2 separate regions of the Homo sapiens genome follow, and region 1 is linked to region 2. The links come from fine-mapping of genetic effects on gene expression. A gene starts in region 2. The other region holds a variant in brackets. All regions are shown on one strand. Distances are between the middles of the regions.

Region 1 (8,402 bases), 28 kb after region 2:
CCGAGCACGCACTCAGGAGGACCCTGAATCCTGATACTAAAACTCAAAAGTCACCCCCTGCCACGGATGCCTGATAAATGGCCACTTTGGGAAACTTGCTTTCTTTCCACGAAACTTTGCAGTTTCTGTCCAAAACTGCAAAATTCGGAGACAGTGACAGCCAATGGCAATGAATAGCAGATCCTGACTGGGAACCCATCCTGTGCCTGGCTTTCTTCTGAGCCCTTAATGGGTCACGGATAAGAGGGAGCTGCCTGGGCCCGAATCCCAGCACCACTCAAGACCCACGGTGATAGAGGAGCTAGAAAGAAATTATTTAGGCAGATAGTGAGGGCACCAGAGTCCTTGGCGGAATTTCTTTTCTAACAAAAAGCAGCCCAAGAAATTATTTTTTCTAACAAAAAGCAGTCTGAGAAATCGAGCTGCAGACATAGATAAGCGAGCTAGAAGCTTGCACGGGGAAATGCCAGCAGCTGCGTCAATAGAAAACAGTTGCCTGGGTGCCAGGCAAGACCAACGTGGAGACTCCATCTTCCCTGTTTTTATTACCACGTGTACAGTAAAGGGATGGGCAACATGGCACAGCTCAGGCAGAGGACCCGCTTGCATGATAAAAGATTAGGGGTGGCCAGAAATTCACACCCGATGCAAATGGCACACCTAGTCCTAACCAGTTTTTCACACCCTATGCAAATATAACACCTAGTCCAACCAATCTTTCACGCCTTATGTAAATCAAACACTGCCTCCTCACCAGGCATCTATAAAATCCCCTGCATTTCACTGTGCATCTGTCAATGCATTTTTTCAGGACCTCTCTCTGCAGGAGGGAACTCTTCTCTTTCTTTTGCCTATTAAGCTTCTCTTAACCTCACTCTTGTGTGTCCACGTCCTTGTTCTCCATGGCCATGAGATGACAAATCTCGGGTATCTACCCCAGATGAGGCCGTTTCAATGGCACAGCCTTGGACACATGCCCTCAACAACTGAACTTAGTTTCCTCTCTTGCAAAATAGGGGGGATCATAGTTTCCACCTCATAGGATGGCTATGAAGAGCCAGGGAGATGATGGATCCCAGAGGAGGCACAGGTACATACATAATGAGCACAGAGACAGAATAGGCTGATATCAGCATCATCACTGTCCTCATCACTGTCATCATCATCATTATCATTATTTTAAAGCAGGGTCATCCGGCCGGGCGCGGTAGCTCACACCTATAATCCCAGCACTTTGGGAGGCCGACGTGGGTGGATCACTTGAGGTCAGGAGTTCGAGACCAGCCTGGCCAATATGGTGAAACCCCGTCTCTACTAAAAATACAAAAATTAGCCAGAAATCACTTGAACCAGGGAGGCGGAGGTTGCAATGAACCTAGATCATGCCACTGCACTCCAGCCTGGGCAACAGAGCGAGACTCCGTCTCAAAAAAAAAAAAAAAGAAAAAAAGAAGCAGGGTCTTGCTCTGTTGCCCAGGCTGGAGTGCAGTGGTGGGATCATGGCTCACTGCAGCCTCAACCTCCCAGGCTCAAGTGATCCTCCTGCCTTAGCCTCCCAAGTAGCTGGTACTACAGGTGCATACCACCACACCCAACTAATTGTTTTACTTTTTTGTAGAGATGGTGTCTCACTGCCCAGGCTGGTCTTGAACTGGCCTCAAGTGATCCTCCCACCTCAGCCTCCCAAAGTGTTGGGATTACAGGTGTGAGCCACCACACCCACCCTGTTATTACTATGACCACCATTGTTCATCTTGTTCCCCAAGAAAAGTGCAGTGGTGCAATCTTGGCTCACTGCAACTTCTGCCTCCTGGGTTCAAGCAATTCTCATGCCTCAGCCTCCCGAGTAGCTGGGATTACAGGTCCCGCCACCACGCCTGGCTAATTTTTGTATTTTTAGTAGAGATGGAGTTTCACCATGTTGGCCAGGCTAGTCTCAAACTCTTGACCTCAGGTGATCCACCCACCTTGGCCTCCCAAAGTGCTAGAATTACAGGTGTGAGCCACCGTGTCCAGCCAGTTCTGGACATTTCATATCAATGGAATCATGCACTAGGTGGCCTTTGTGTCTGGCTTCTCTCAGCATCATGTTTTTGGGGCTCATCCACATTGTAGCATGGAGCAGTGCTTCCTTCCTTTCTGTGGCTGAATCATATTTCATGGTGTGGATGATGGAACCACGTTTTGTTTACCCATTCATTCATTCATGGACATTTGGGTTGTTTCCACCGTTTGGACACCTTAGCTGTCATCATCTGTGCCTCAGACATACCAAGTTCTTTCCTACCACAGGGCCTTTGCCCGTGCTGATTTTGTTTGTTTGTTTGAGATGGAGTCTCGCTCTGTTGCCCAGGCTGGAGTGCAGTGGCAAGATCTCAGCTCACTGCACCCTCCGCCTCCCGGGTTCAAGCGATTCTTCTGCCTCAGCCTCCCGAGTAGCTGGGACTACAGGCGTGCGCCACCATGCCCAGCTAATTTTTGTATTTTTGGTAGAGACAGGGTTTCACCATGTTGGCCAGGCTGGTCTCGATCCCTTGACTTCATGATCTGCCTGCCTCAGTCTCCCAAAGTGCTGGGATTACAGGTTTGAGCCACCGCACCCAGCCTGCCCTTGCTATTTTCTTTTCTGCCTGACTGTCCTGCATGTGAACTCATTCAGCATCTGTCTCCTCATAGACTGTGGGCCCTAGAAGGGTGGGGACCATGCCAATCTTGCCTTTTTTTTTTGAGACACAGTCTCACTCTGTGACCCAGGCTGGAGTGCAGTGGCATGATCTCAGCTCACTGCAACCTCCATCTCCCAGTTCAAGCAATTCTTCTGCCTCAGCCTCCTGAGTATCTGGGATTACAGGCATGAGCCACTACGCCCAACTAATTTTTGTGTTTTTAGTATAGACAGGGTTTCCCCATGTTGGCCAGGCTGGTCTTGAACTCCTGACCTCAGGTGATCTGCCCACCTCGGCCTCCCGAAGAGCTGGGATTACAGGCATAAGCCACAGCACCCGGCCCGATCTTGCCTTCTGCTTCATCTGCAGCATCTAGCATGGTGCCCATCCAGAGCTGGGGCTCAGCCAGTGTTTGTGAAATCAATGAATGAATAGAATGAAGGCATTGTAGGAAGCTAAAATCATAAAATTACATCAAGTCCAGGGTTGGGCACAGTGGCTCATGCCTATAATCCCAACACTGGGAGGCTGGGGTGTGAGGATTGCTTGAGCTCAGGCGTTCTAGACCATCCTGGGCAACACAGCAAGACCCTGTCTACAAAATAAAAATTGAAAAATTAACCGGGCATGGTGGTGTGAGCTTGTGATTGCAGCTACTTGGGAGGCTGAGGCGGGAGGATCACTTGAGCCCGGGAGTTTGAGGTTGCAGGGAGCTATGATGGCACAGTGCACTTCAGCCTGGGCAACAGAGTGAGACCTTGTCTCTAAAAAGAATCGCATCAAACCCAGTGTTGGCAGAGCCTAAGGGCTTCCCCACTCCCTGACATGTATGGGCCCAGCATTTTCCCAGCACTAAGATGGCATTGTGGCCACCTCCCCCAAGAGCCACCCCACGTGAATCTGTGAATGGCCCACTTACCAGCTGCGGCCTCTGCTGAGAAGCCCAGATCTGTCTCCCTGGAGAACCTGGTATCAGAGAGAGGGGGCCTTGGAATTCTAGCCCCGTTATCTCCCCATCAGGGCACCTTCGTTTTCCCCTCCACACCCTTCCTTCCTCTGGGGGACGCATGTCCGTTTGCGGGCCGAGGCCTGCGGACACTGAGGGGTGTGGGGGTGATTCTGTTGCGACATCTGAAAGGAAGACGTTAGTTTGTGGGAGACCACATCACCCAAGCAGGTCAGGGGAAGCGAGGTTGGGCCGTTTGTGGTGAGGTCTTAGGGGACTGTGCTAGAGCTGGGCCAGCGTACCCCCATGTTCCTGGAAACTCTAAACCCCATGCAAATAAGAGCCCCGATGGTCAGACTTTCCCAGGAGGATCAGAGAAGTGAAGTGAAGTGAAGGCCAGGCCCGGTGGCTCATGCCTGTAATGCCAGCACTTTGGGAAGTCCAGGCAGGTAGATCGCTTGAGGCCAGGAGTTTGAGGCTGCAGTGAGTTGTACTTGCACCACTGCACTCCAGCCTGGGCAACAGAACAAGATCCTGTCTCAAAAAAATAAAAAATAAAAATAAATAAATAAATACTTCAGGCCTATAATCCCAGCACTTTGGGAGGCCAAGGTGGGCAGACCACTTGAGGTCAGGAGTTCAAGACCAACCTGGCCAACATGGTGAAACCCTGTCTCTACTAAAAATATAAAAATTAGCCAGGAGTGGTGGTGCACACTTATAATCTCAGCTACTGGGGAGACTGAGGCAGGAGAATCGCTTGAACCCGGGAGGTGGAGGTTGCAGTGAGCCAAGATCGCACCACTGTACTCCAGCCGGGGCGATAGAACAAGACATCATCTCAAAAATAAAAAGGCCAGATGCAGCAGCTGACACCTGTAATCCTAACACTTTGGGAGGCTGAGGCGGGAGGATCACTTGAACGAGACCAACCTGGCAACATGACAAAACCCCATCTCTTCAAAAATCCAAAAATTAGCCAGGCGTGGTGGTGGTGCTCCTGTAGTCCCAGCTACTCAGGAGGCTGAGATGGGAGGATCACTTGAGCCCAGGAAGTAGAGGCTGTGGTGAGCTGAGACTGCACCACTGCACTCCAGCCTGGGCAACAGAGTGAGGGGACCCTACTCAAAAAAAAAAGAAGAAGAAAAAGAGATTAGCCACAGAGAGGTGAAGTGAGTTGCCCAAGGCAGCTCAGCCCATGAGGTCTGAGGCCCAAGCCAGAGTCTCCCCCAGGCAAACACAAAGGCCTTGCTTGAATTAAGTCACAACAAAGAGTCCTGATTCTCTCACTCCCAACTCATCTCCATGTGCTGTGCTGGAGAGTTGCCTCTCCTAGCATCTTCACATGATTAAGGAGGGCTATTATGCCCATTGCACAGATGCAGAACTGAGGCTCAGAGAGGCTGAGCAACTCACCTTAGGACACACAGCAGGTGAGTGAGAAGCAGGGCTCCACGTGTCTCCTGCTTAGACCTTGTTGACCACAGAGGGCAGACGAGG[T/C]GCTGCTGTTGCCGAGGAGGAGCAGGGGGGTGAGAGAGGCACCCAGGGTGAGCCTGGGGTTATCTAGCCCAGCTGGGCCAGGGCAATAGGCCCTTGGGGAGGCCCCCAGTAGGATCTGGGCCCTTTCTGCCTGAAAGGAGAGGAGGAAGTAGTTTTGTTTGTCTGCCTGGGGTACGAGCACACGGCCAGAGCTGGCCAATCTGTTAGGCACACAGGGCCTGCACCCAGGACCCAAGTGCTGTGTGGGACTTCCCAAAGGGCTTCAGCTTATTTAAAATCAGAAGAAAAAAAACTGAACATCCTAATAATAAATATACAATAAGGAATCCAGCCTGGACCACATCGGTCTTAATGCCAACACAGTTGTAAAATAGAATTTTAAGCTGGCACGGCGGCCCACACCTGTAATCCCAGCACTTTGGGAGGCTGAGGCGGGTGGATCACCTGAGGTCAGGAGTTTGAGACCAGCCTGGCCAACATAGTGAAACCTTGTCTCTACTAAAAATACAAACATTAGCCAGGCGTGTTGGTGGGCACCTCTAATCCCAGCTACTCAGGAGGCTGAGGCAGGAGAGTCACTTGAACCAAGGTGGGCGGATCGCTTGAGCCCCAGGAGTTTGAGACCAGCCTGGGCAACACAGCAAGATCCCATCTCCAAAAAAAATATTTTTTTAATTAGTCAGGTGTGGTGGTGTGTGCCTGTAGTCCCAGCTACTTGGGAGCCTGAGGCAGGAGGATCACTTGAGTCCAGCAGTTCAAGACTGCAGTGAGCTATGATCATACCACTGCACTCCAGCCTGAGTGACAGAGTGAAACTCTGTCTCTAAAATAGGTTAGTCAATTAATAAAAATATTTTAAAATATTTTATAATGGAGGAAGTCCTGGTGTGGACCTATGCGTGCCATGAGACCCCAGCCTGTCCAGGCTCAATTCAGTTTCAAGGCCTTTGTGCCTGCTCTTCCCTCCCCCAGCCTGGGCAATATAGCAAGACCCCATCTCTACAAAAAAATATACTCTTTCTGCACTACGCACTCCCCAAATCAAGATGATTCCTTCTCACCCTCAAATGCCCCTTCCTTCACGTCAGTTAGGTCACCTCTGTGGGTTTGTGCAACTGCTGTTCCCACTTCCTGTTTCCCCTTTGGATTTTTTTGTTTGTTTGGGGTTTTTTGTTTTTTTGTTTTGTTTTGTTTGGTTTTCGTTGGTTTTGTTTTGTTTGAGACGGAGTTACACTCTCGCTGCCCAGGCTGGAGTGCAGTGGTGAGATCTCAGCAAACCGCAACCTCCACCTCCCGGGTTCAAGCGATTCTCCTGCCTCAGCCTCCCAAATAGCTGGGATTACAGGCATGTGTCACCACGCCGGGCTAATTTTGCAGTTTTAGTAGAGACGGGATTTCTCCATGTTGGTCAGGCTGGTCGCGAACTCCTGACCTCAAATGATCTGCCCACCTTGGCCTCCCAAAGTGCTGGGATTACAGGCATGAGCCACCGCACCCAGCTGGTGTTTTTTTGTTTGTTTGTTTTGCGGGGGACAGAATTTCCCTCTGTCATCCAGGCTAAAGTGCAGTGGCGTGATCTCGGCTCACTGCAGCCTCTGCGTCCCTGGTCCAAGCGATTCTCTTGCATCAGCCTCCTGAGTAGCTGGGATTACAGGCACCCGCCACCACGCCTAATTTTTGTATTTTTAGTAGAGACAGGGTTTTACCATGTTGGCCAGCCTGGTCTCAAACTCCTGGCCTCAAATGATCCACCCGCCTCGGCCTCCCAAAGTGCTGGGATTACAGGCGTGAGCCACCGCGCCCAGTTTCTGTTCCCCCTTTGTTGCTTTTGTTTTTGTTTTGAGAAGGAGTCTCACTCCGTTGCCCAGGCTGGAGTGCAATGGTGCGATCTCTGCTCACTGCAACCTCCGCCTCCCGGGTTCAAGCAATTCTTGTGCCTCAGCCTCCTGAGTAGCTGGGATTACAGGCGTGCGCCGCCACACCCGGCTGATTTTCGTATTTTAATAGAGACGGGGTTTTGCCATGTTTGCCAGGCTGGTCTCAAACTCCTGACCTCAAGTGATCCGCCTGCCTCAGCCTGTCAAAGTGCTGGGATTGCAGGTGTGAGCCACCGCACCCGTTCCCCGTTCTCCCTTTGTAATGATGTCTCACTCCTCTTCACTGCTTGATAGATTATAGATGCCAGGAGTCAGGGGGCCTGCACCTGTCTCCGTGTCACCCCTGTGTCCTCCAAACAGCAGGCACACAGTAGGTGCTCAATAACAACTTGCTGGGGGCAAGACAGGAGCAAGCTGTCTCTGCACCTGTGGCACCAGATGCTTTGTTGGACTGCAGACAGGGTGACTTGAGCTGTCCTTGTTCCGCCCCCAGGGCTCACCTGCTTGAGGAAACAGGAACTGCCTCGGGGCAGCCAGCCCCGCCCCATTGACGTGCAGACCTTGAATCGAAACCCAGGCTCCTGCAGGCACTGGCACAGCTACAGCGAGGGCCTCGGCCATCCAAGGGTCTCCCAGGTATGTGACCCAAGAGCCTCAGCCCTCGAGGAGACAGAACGTGGGGGCTGGGCTAGGCCAGAAGGAGGGACAGGGCTAGTGGGGCCTGGGGTGGCAGGAGGGATTTTCTAGGGGCATGGGGGAGAGCTTCGTGGAGGAGGGGGTATTTGTGGTGACCACAAATGGAAAATGGAGCTGGAGTTAGGGAAAAGGGGGTCTTGGCAAGACAACAGCATGAGCAAAGGTATGGAGAGGCAAGAGAGAGAGAGCAAGGATGTCTTTAGGTCTAGAATGTGGGTAGCGGGGAAGTAGAGGAGGCTCCCAGGCCAGGGTCAGGAGCTTGAATTTGAGCATGCGGTCTTTCATCACTAGATAGCTGTTCACCAGCAAAGACCCTTGCACCCTCCTCTGTGCCAGGCCAGCACCAGGACACAGAAAAAAACAACAACACAGGAACCTAGCCCTAAGCCCTGATCCCTAGGAGGCCCTCAGGCTGGTGGAGACAGAGCAAGATAAAGACACTCTAGCTCCATGGAGTCATGGCTGGACCAGAGAGAGGAACAGGGGGGAACGTTGGGGACAGAGAGGGGTGCCAGGGTGTTGTCTGGGGGGAGATGCAGGAAAGCTGCCTGGAGGAGGGGACATTTTTACTGGGTTTTGAAGGATAAATAGGAGCTCTTCCAAGTAAAAAAAAAGAATAAGCCTGTAAACATTACCCCATGATAGGTCACAACTGGATTCATGAATATTGTATATATATCTCTATATATACACAGTGCTAGCTAAACTTTCCTAGGT
Region 2 (8,054 bases):
TAAAAAAATTAGCCTGCCATAGTAGCGTGCAGATGTAGTCCCAGCTACTTGGGAGGCTGAGGTGGGAGGATGGCTTGAGCCCAGGAATTCCAGACCAGCCTGGGTAACATAGCAAGACCCCATCTCTACAAAAAATAAAAATTAGCCATGCGTGGTGGTGCATGCCAGTAGTTCCAGCTACTCTGGAGGCTGAGGTGGGAGAATCACTGGAGCCTGGGAGGCGGAGGTTGCAGTGAGTGAAATCACACCATTGCTCTCCAGCCTGGGCCACAGAACAAGACCCTGTCTCAAAAATAAGTAAATAAATGAGGATAATACCAAGAAAAAAGAATATTCAGAGGTGATCAAGACTATCAAATACCACAGAGGCTGAGGCCTGTAGGTGGTCAATGCCTCTGGTTGAAGCTTTTTTAACCAGAGCTAGATTAGCAGAAGAATGAGCTGAAGTGGAAGGGAGGAGGAAAGGCTGGGCCCTCCTTCCACAGATCCTTAAGTAAGCCTCAAGGCCCCGGAGGCCCCAGAGTGACCTAGAACAGACTGGACCATCTCTAAGAAGCAGGGAGCCCTAGTGATCAAACTGCGGCCTGGGAAGCTTGGCACTCTGAGTTCAGATACCAAATTCCCACTTTTAAGCAGGAAGGGGGAAAAGTCACTTAACCTCCTCTGGCTTCAGTTTTCTCACCATTAAACAGGAAAAAAACAATAACATCGTTTTGCTGGGCTGGTACTGGGATTAAAATTTTAAGAGTCAGGGGCCGGGTGCAGGGGCTCACGCCTGTAATCCCAGTACTTTGGGAGGTGGAGGCAGGCGGATCACGAGGTCAGGAGTTCGAGACCAGCCTGGCCAACACAGTGAAACCCCATCTCTACTAAAAATACAAAAAAATACACCACACCAGGCGTGGTGGTGGGTGCCTGGAATCCAAGCTACTTGGGAGGCTGAGGCAGGAGAATCGCCTGAACCCGGGAGGCAGAGGTTGCAGTGAGCCAAGATCGCGCCATTGCACTCCAGCCCTGGTGACCGTGAGAGACTCCATCTCAGAAAAAAAAAAAAGTCAGGGTCTTGCTCCGTCGCCCAGGCTGGAGTGCAATGGTGCGATCACAGCTCACTGCTGCCTTGACCTCCTGGGCTCAAGGGATCCTCCCACCTTAGCCTCCTGAGTAGCTGGGACTACAAGCATACACCACCATACCTGGCTAATTTTTTAAAAAAATTTTTTGTTTTTTGAGATGGAGCCTTGCTCTGTCACCCAGGCTGGAATGCAGTGACACAATCTCGGCTCACTGCAACCTCCGCCTCCCAGATTCAAGCAATTCTGGTGCCTCAGCCGCCTGAGTAGCTGGGACTACAGGCGCACATGACCACACCTGCCTAGTTTCTGTATTTTTAGCAGAGATGGTGTTTTACCATGTTGGCCAGGCTGGTCTGGAACTCCTGACCTCAGGTGATCCACCTGCCTTGGCCTCCCAAAGTGCTGGGATTACAGGTGTGAACCACCTCGCCTGGCCAAAAAACTTTTTTTTTTTTGCAGAGATGGAGGTCTTGCTATGTTGCCCAGGCTGGTCTCCACCTCCTGGCCTCCAATGAACCTCCACCTCAGCCTCCCAAAGTGCTGGGATTACAAGCGTGCACCATGACGCCCAGCTAATTTTATTTGTTGTAGAGATGGGGATCTCCCTATCTTGTCCGGGCTGGTCTTGACCTCCTAAGCTCAAGCAATCCTCCTGCCTCCCAAAGTGCTGACTCCCAAAGTGCTGGGATTACAGGCCTGAGCCACCACACCCAGCTGCAAGCCCGATTTTCCAAATGTATCTCTCCTCTGTTTTTCTCTTTCTTTTTTTTTTTTTTTTTTTTTTTGAGACGTAGTCTCATTCTGTCGCCCAGACTGGAGTGCAGTGGCGCGATCTCGGTTCACTGCAGGCTCCGCCTCCCGGGTTCACACCATTCTCCTGCCTCAGCCTCCCGAGTAGCTGGGACTACAGGCGCCCGCCACTACTCCCGGGTAATTTTTTGTGTTTTTAGTAGAGACGGGGTTTCACCGCGTTAGCCAGGATGGTCTCGATCTCCTGACCTCCTGATCCGCCCGCCTCGGCCTCCCAAAGTGCGGGATTACAGGCCTGAGCCACCGCGCCCAGCCTTTTTTTCTTTTGATAGGGTCTTGCTCTGTCGCCCAGGCCGAATTGCAGTGGGGCGATCACGGCTTACTGCACCCTCAACCTCCTGGCTTCCCAAAGCACTGGGATCACAGACGGGAGCCAACGCCCCGGCCAGTTTTTTCAACGTTGAGAGCCCTGGCCCCTAGATAGGACCCAGCATCCTCACTGCTCTAACCCCTCCCCCCCCACCATCCCCGGGCTGGCCCGGACAACCCCTAAGGTGGCCGAGGGCGGGCCCTGAGGAGGCCGGCGCGCGCTTCCGGGCACAGCTTGTGGCGGTGAAGCCGCTCAGATGGCGGAGGCCTTGGGTATCTCTAAGCAGATCGCTAGGCCGCAGACCTCGGAGCTCGTCTTGGGTCACTTTTATTTATTTTTTTTGAGACGGAGTCTCTCTCTGTCGCCCACGCTGCAGTGCAATGGCGCGATCTCGGCTCACTGCAAGCTCCGCCTCCCAGATTCAAGCAATTCTCTGCCTCAGCCTCCCGAGTGGCTGGGATTACAGGCGCCCGCCACCACGCCCGGCTAATTTTTGTATTTTTAGTAGAAACGGGGTTTCACCATCTTGGCCAGGCTGGTCTTGAACTCCTGACCTCGTGATCCACGCGCCTCGGCTTCCCAAAGTGTGGGAATTAAAGGCGTGAACCACCGCGTCCGGCTTGGGTCACTTTTCGAGTATACAGCTCCTCCTCTCTCCTTCCTCCCTAGGCCCCCACTGCCCCGACTCGCAGGCCGCAGACAAGGCTGAGAGCGCTACCTTGCTTTCCCGCGCTCGCCTCGGTGCCTACTGCGCCTGCGCGAGCTGTGAGGGCGGGACCCAGAGACACCCGCCCCAACTACTGGCGTGCGCCCTCTGCTGTCGCCTAACGGAACTCCGGGCGCGCGTGCGCACGCACCCCAAGCCACGCCCCGCCAGGCTGCCGGCGCGCGAGCGGTTGGCGCCGCTCCCTGCCTTCCCTCTCCTACAGTGGGGCGGGGCCGGGCCGCCCGAGTCGGGGGTGGAAGGCGGGGGCCACATAATGCCACGCCCCCGCCTCGTCCCCATTTGAAGCCCCGCGACTCTTCACTGCTGGTCAATCAGAGCCCGTGCTCTCCCTAGTGCCGGCCAATGGGAGGTGCGCTCGGGCTGCTTCCGGCTCCGCGCTCCGCTCGCCCCCTCCCAAGGTCTCCCCGCGACTGGCGGGACGCAGGGGCGGGCGTCGGCCGCGGTGACGCGCAGCGGGCCTGGAGCCAATAAGGGGCGGGCTCGGTGCTGATGGACGGTGCTGGTGGCCAGTGGAGAGGCGCTGGCCGCACTTCCCGTCGGGGAGAGAGTGTAATATGGCGAAGACCTACGATTACCTGTTCAAGCTGCTGCTGATCGGGGACTCGGGGGTGGGGAAGACCTGTGTCCTGTTCCGCTTCTCCGAGGACGCCTTCAACTCCACTTTTATCTCCACCATAGGTAACGGGACCGGGGAATGGCTGGGGGCGCCGGAGGCCCGGGCTGGGCGCGCCCCTGAGGGGCTGGGGCTGAGGGATCTACAGGGCTGGACGGGCCGAGGGCGCTGAGAGGGTCGAGGGGGCCTAAAGGGAGAAGAGCAGTCGCCTGCACCGCCGTTCGGGGGTTCCTGGGCCGTGGTGGGGGAGACCAGGTGCCCATTTTGCAGATAGGGAGACTGAGGCTCCGACCCTCAGCCCGCTCGTTAGGGCGTGTTATGTCTTGGGCTGGGGTCTTCGCGCCCGTCCTCTCGATCTGTCCTAGCAGCAGCCCTCGAAGCGGTTCTTTTGAGGCTCTTGCCTTACAGAAGTGGAAACTGAGTCATGGGGAATTGGCCATGGGAAAAAGACAGTGGCATCTCACCTTAATGAGCATTTACTATGTGCCAAGTGCTTCACGTGCATTTTCACACTCTTCAGTTCTTGGTGTTAAGTGCTGTTATGAGCCCGTCTGACAAGATGAGGAATCTGAGGCTCAGGGAGGGCATGGAACTTGCCCAAGGCCACACAGTCTGCACGTGGTGAGAATGGGATTTGATGGAATTTGAACCTGGCTGTGTCTCAACCCAAAACTCGAGGCTTAGCTCTCCTAGAGAGATGCCACTGCACACTCCCAGCTGATGACAAGCTCAGCTAATGCACCTTGGAGCCGGGACTCTAACCCACACCATTCCTGCTCTTTTCTCTGGAGCGTTCAGAGGTTGAGCCCCTCTCCCTGACCATGCTTCCCCTCATAAGCGTATTTTCCTCTAGAAGGAATGATAAGAAGAGTCAGGACCTTTTCCCTGCCCACCTTTCATCCTGCTCCAGGAATGACAGCAATGGCAAGTGACAGCACTGCCTGCCCTGGGACCTGTCATCCCCAAGAAGATGCAAGATAAAAGCCTCAGCGAGAAACTAAATCAGCCACTGCCACAGACAGCCTTGACTTCCCTATCAAAGGGCCCAAGACTCCAGCTGTCACTTTAGAACAGCTTTTCCTGTAGGGCCAGCCCACATTGTGGTTGAACAGAATTGGCTTGGTGCATCTCAGTTGTGATGTCCACAGAAGTGGAGCTGACCTCTCTCAGTGCCACAAAAGCAGTCCTGGCCCACAATGAAAAGGTTTGACCCAGGAGTAACACCTATTTGAGTGGCTTGTGAGCTCTGTAGCCCTGCTAGGGATGGGGAAAGTGGGGGAACGGTCACTAAGTCCAGGAGTTTATTCCGACTCAAGAAAACCTAGGGAATGGCCTTTGCTTTACTGTGTCACTTTGACAGAATCGTGTTATCTCCCTGAACCCCAAGATAATGTGCTAATTCCATTCTTGCCCTCCTCCAGGAGCTATGCTTTATTTATTTTATTTTATTTTATTTTTTGAGACGGAGTCTAGCTCTTTTGCCCAGGCTGGAATCCAGCGGCAGGATCTCGGGTCACTACAACCTCTGCCTCCCGGGTTCAAGCAATTCTCCTGCCTCAGCCTCCCTAGTAGCTGGGATTATAGGCACCCGCCACCACGTCCAGCTAATTTTTGTATTTTTAGTAAATACAGGGTTTCACTGTGTTGGTCAGGCTGGTCTCGAACTCCTGACCTTGTGATCTGCCTGCCTTGGCATCCCAAAGTGCTGGGATTACAAGCATGAGCCACCGCACCCAGCGGAGCTGTGCTTTATAAAACAGTTATATGCCAGATGTAAAATAGAGAGAATTGACTGGAAATCATTACGTCTGGTTTCCAGTTGCTGTTTGCCCTTGAATGTGCACTACCCCTCTCTGAGCCCTGCTGTCTTTAGAGCAGGAGTGACACTGTCTGCCCAGCCTAGTGCCCTGGTGGTTGAGGATTAGAATTAGACAATAAGGGGTTGTCACCACAACCAGAGGCTATCTAGAGGAAGCAAATGAATGGCTCCTGCAGTGACAGCATCCAGCCTCTGAAGACAGATGTTTCTGAATTCTTCCCCCTCCCCCACTCCAAGGCTAAACTTTAGGGTAATTCTTGTGCTCCAACCAATCAAGAAGTGGCGTTAATTCAGCCTGGGCAACATGGCAAACCCCATCTCTACAAAAAATAAAATAAAATCAGCCGGGCACAGTGGCTCACCCATGTAGACCCAGCCACTTGGGAGGCCAAGGTGGGAGGATCGATTGAGCCCAGGAGGTCAAGGTGCAGTGAGCTGTGATGGTGTCACTGCACTCCAGCCTGGGCAACAGAGCGAGACCCTGTCTTAAAAAATAATAATAAAAATAAAAGAAAGAAAGAAATGATGTTAACTGTGAGCAGACTGGCTTGCATTCACTCAGATCCCAGTTTCCCAGCCTTCCCCACAAACCCCCCTCTTTTTTTTTTTTTTTTTTTGAGACAGTCTCTCTTTGTCACCCAGTCTGGAGTGCAGTGGCGCGATCTCGGCTCACTGCAACTTCCACCTCCCAGGTTCCAGCGATTCTCCTGTCTCAGCCTCCCAAGTAGCTGGGATTACAAGCACCTGCCACCATGCCCAGCTAATTTTTGTATTTTTTTTTTTTTTTTTTTAGTAGAGATGGGGTTTCACCATGTTGGCCAGGCTGGTCTCGAACTCCTGACCTCGTGACCGCCCACCTTGGCCTCCCAAAGTGCTGGGATTACAAGCATGAGCCACCGCGCCCAGCCCAACCCCCCTCTTTAGAGTTACTTTGAGCTTTAAAGAGGCTTTCTTCCATTTGCAGATGAGGATGTGACTTGGTGAAAGTTACCTAGCAAGGTGGAGGTGGCACCTGACCCTAAGATCCCTCCCTCCCACCCCTTCATTCCCCTCCTTCCATTTGTAGCCTTCTGTCTTCTAGGAAAGTCTAATTCACCATGACCTTGAAGGTCAGACCTCATAATTCTTAGGCCTCATAAAGTTTACACTTCCTAATTAAATTTGGCATGTTAATAAAACCCAGAGGAGTGTAGGGCGGAGTGCTGCTGTGGAGCTTGGCCAACCTAACAGTGCTCCTCGATTTTTTGTGTCCCTGTACACGTGTGACAGGAAATGGGGAATGTTTTAGGAAGCCCAGGCACACTGGGCTGTCTAGTCCTGAAGCAGTATCACCTTAATGCTTAAAGGTGATTCCATAAATTAGCCATACGTGGTGGCGCTTGCCTGTATTCCCAGCTACTCAGGAGGCTGAGGCAGGAGAATCGCTTGAATCCAGGAGGCAGAGGTTGCAGTGAGCCAAGATTGTGCCAGTGCACTCCAGCCTGGGCAACAGAGCAAAACTCTGTCTCCAAAAAAAAAAAGAAGCAATTCTATATTGGCTGAGTGTACCTCTGGGTTTTCTTTATAGACAAGGATTGAGTGGCTATTCATTTTCTGCCACTCAATCCTTAACATTTTGCCAAAAGTTACATTTCATCAAAGCCTATTCTCAGAAGCCCCATAGATCATTTGTGGTGTGAACTTGGCCCTGTAGCTCCCTGGAATGGGTTCTCACCAGCCTGGCTCGGCGCCACTGCCTCCTCAGGGGCCCATTGATTCCTCCAGTGAAAGGGTTGGCATTTGAGAAAGTGCTTTGTGAACCGCTCAACACCGCGTAGACCCTGTTGCGCTTTAATACTTTGATCCAGCCATATTTTGCCAGTGTCTTCTGTGGGCCAGGCAGCCATTTTGGCAAGAGGGCTGCAGAAAGGACACAGGTGAGTCAAGGTGCGTGCAGGACTGGGGTACCAGCTTCTAGCAAATGTGTATTCAACCCCTGTGTGTTCAGTCACTGGAGGTAATAGCAGTGGATGAGACTTGTCAGTTCCCTGCCCCAGGGAGCTTACGTTTGAGAGGGCGAAAGTCCAGTGCTGGGGCTGGATGGATGGAATTAGCATCCCCACCCTGGGTTCAGAGAGGCCCAGCCAGGCCTGGGCCTCAAGTCTTCCCCAGCAGGCACTTGAACAAACTCCTGGTGGCAAAGGCTGGGTCTGGCTGTTTCTCATCTACATGGGCCATTATGATCTGCAAGCATTATGCCCAGGTCCATGCAGCAGATACATACATGTATGTCAGTTATGTTAATAAATAGGTAAAGGGAGAACTGATGAGGATGGTCAGAAAGGTTCCCCTGAGGAGGGAACTTGAATGGGAACCTGAACAAAGGGATAGCCAGGTAGCTACAGAAGAAAGAACTTTCCAGGGCAGGGAAGAGCAAACATCAAAGCCCCGAGTCAGGAGCATGCTTGGAATGTTGAGGAAATCGCTGTGTGGATGGTGTGGCCAGAGAGAGCAGGTCATGAGCCAGAGTGCTGAGAGGTGACCAGGTTAGGCAGGACCTTGACACACATGAGCAGCTGTTTCCACTTTATTCGAGGGAAGTGGGGCAGGGAAGCCACTGAAAGAGGCTTTAAAAAAAAATAGCTTTATGAGATAGAATTCGCATACAGTTCACCCATTTGCAGTGTACAATTCAGTGGCTTTGGGTACATTCACAGAGTTCC

What was found.
Region 1: its variant is fine-mapped to the expression of RAB8A in whole blood (INTERVAL, PIP above 0.99).

What each region holds. Positions count from the first base shown.
Region 1 is chr19:16,136,150-16,144,551 of GRCh38, forward strand. It overlaps HSH2D (hematopoietic SH2 domain containing), which reads left to right and starts at 7,536. Exons shown (of 6, transcript NM_001382417.1): 1 at 7,536-7,625. HSH2D-AS1 (HSH2D and RAB8A antisense RNA 1) reads right to left here and starts at 3,766. Exons shown (of 2, transcript NR_199156.1): 1 at 3,586-3,766. RefSeq lists enhancers at 5,337-5,406, 6,829-6,878, 6,977-7,671, 7,159-7,318, 7,399-7,658 and 2 more. The variant T/C (reference allele first, on the strand shown) is at 5,113.
Region 2 is chr19:16,108,428-16,116,481 of GRCh38, forward strand. It overlaps RAB8A (RAB8A, member RAS oncogene family), which reads left to right and starts at 3,462. Exons shown (of 8, transcript NM_005370.5): 1 at 3,462-3,598. The coding sequence starts at 3,475. RefSeq lists a silencer at 2,845-3,504.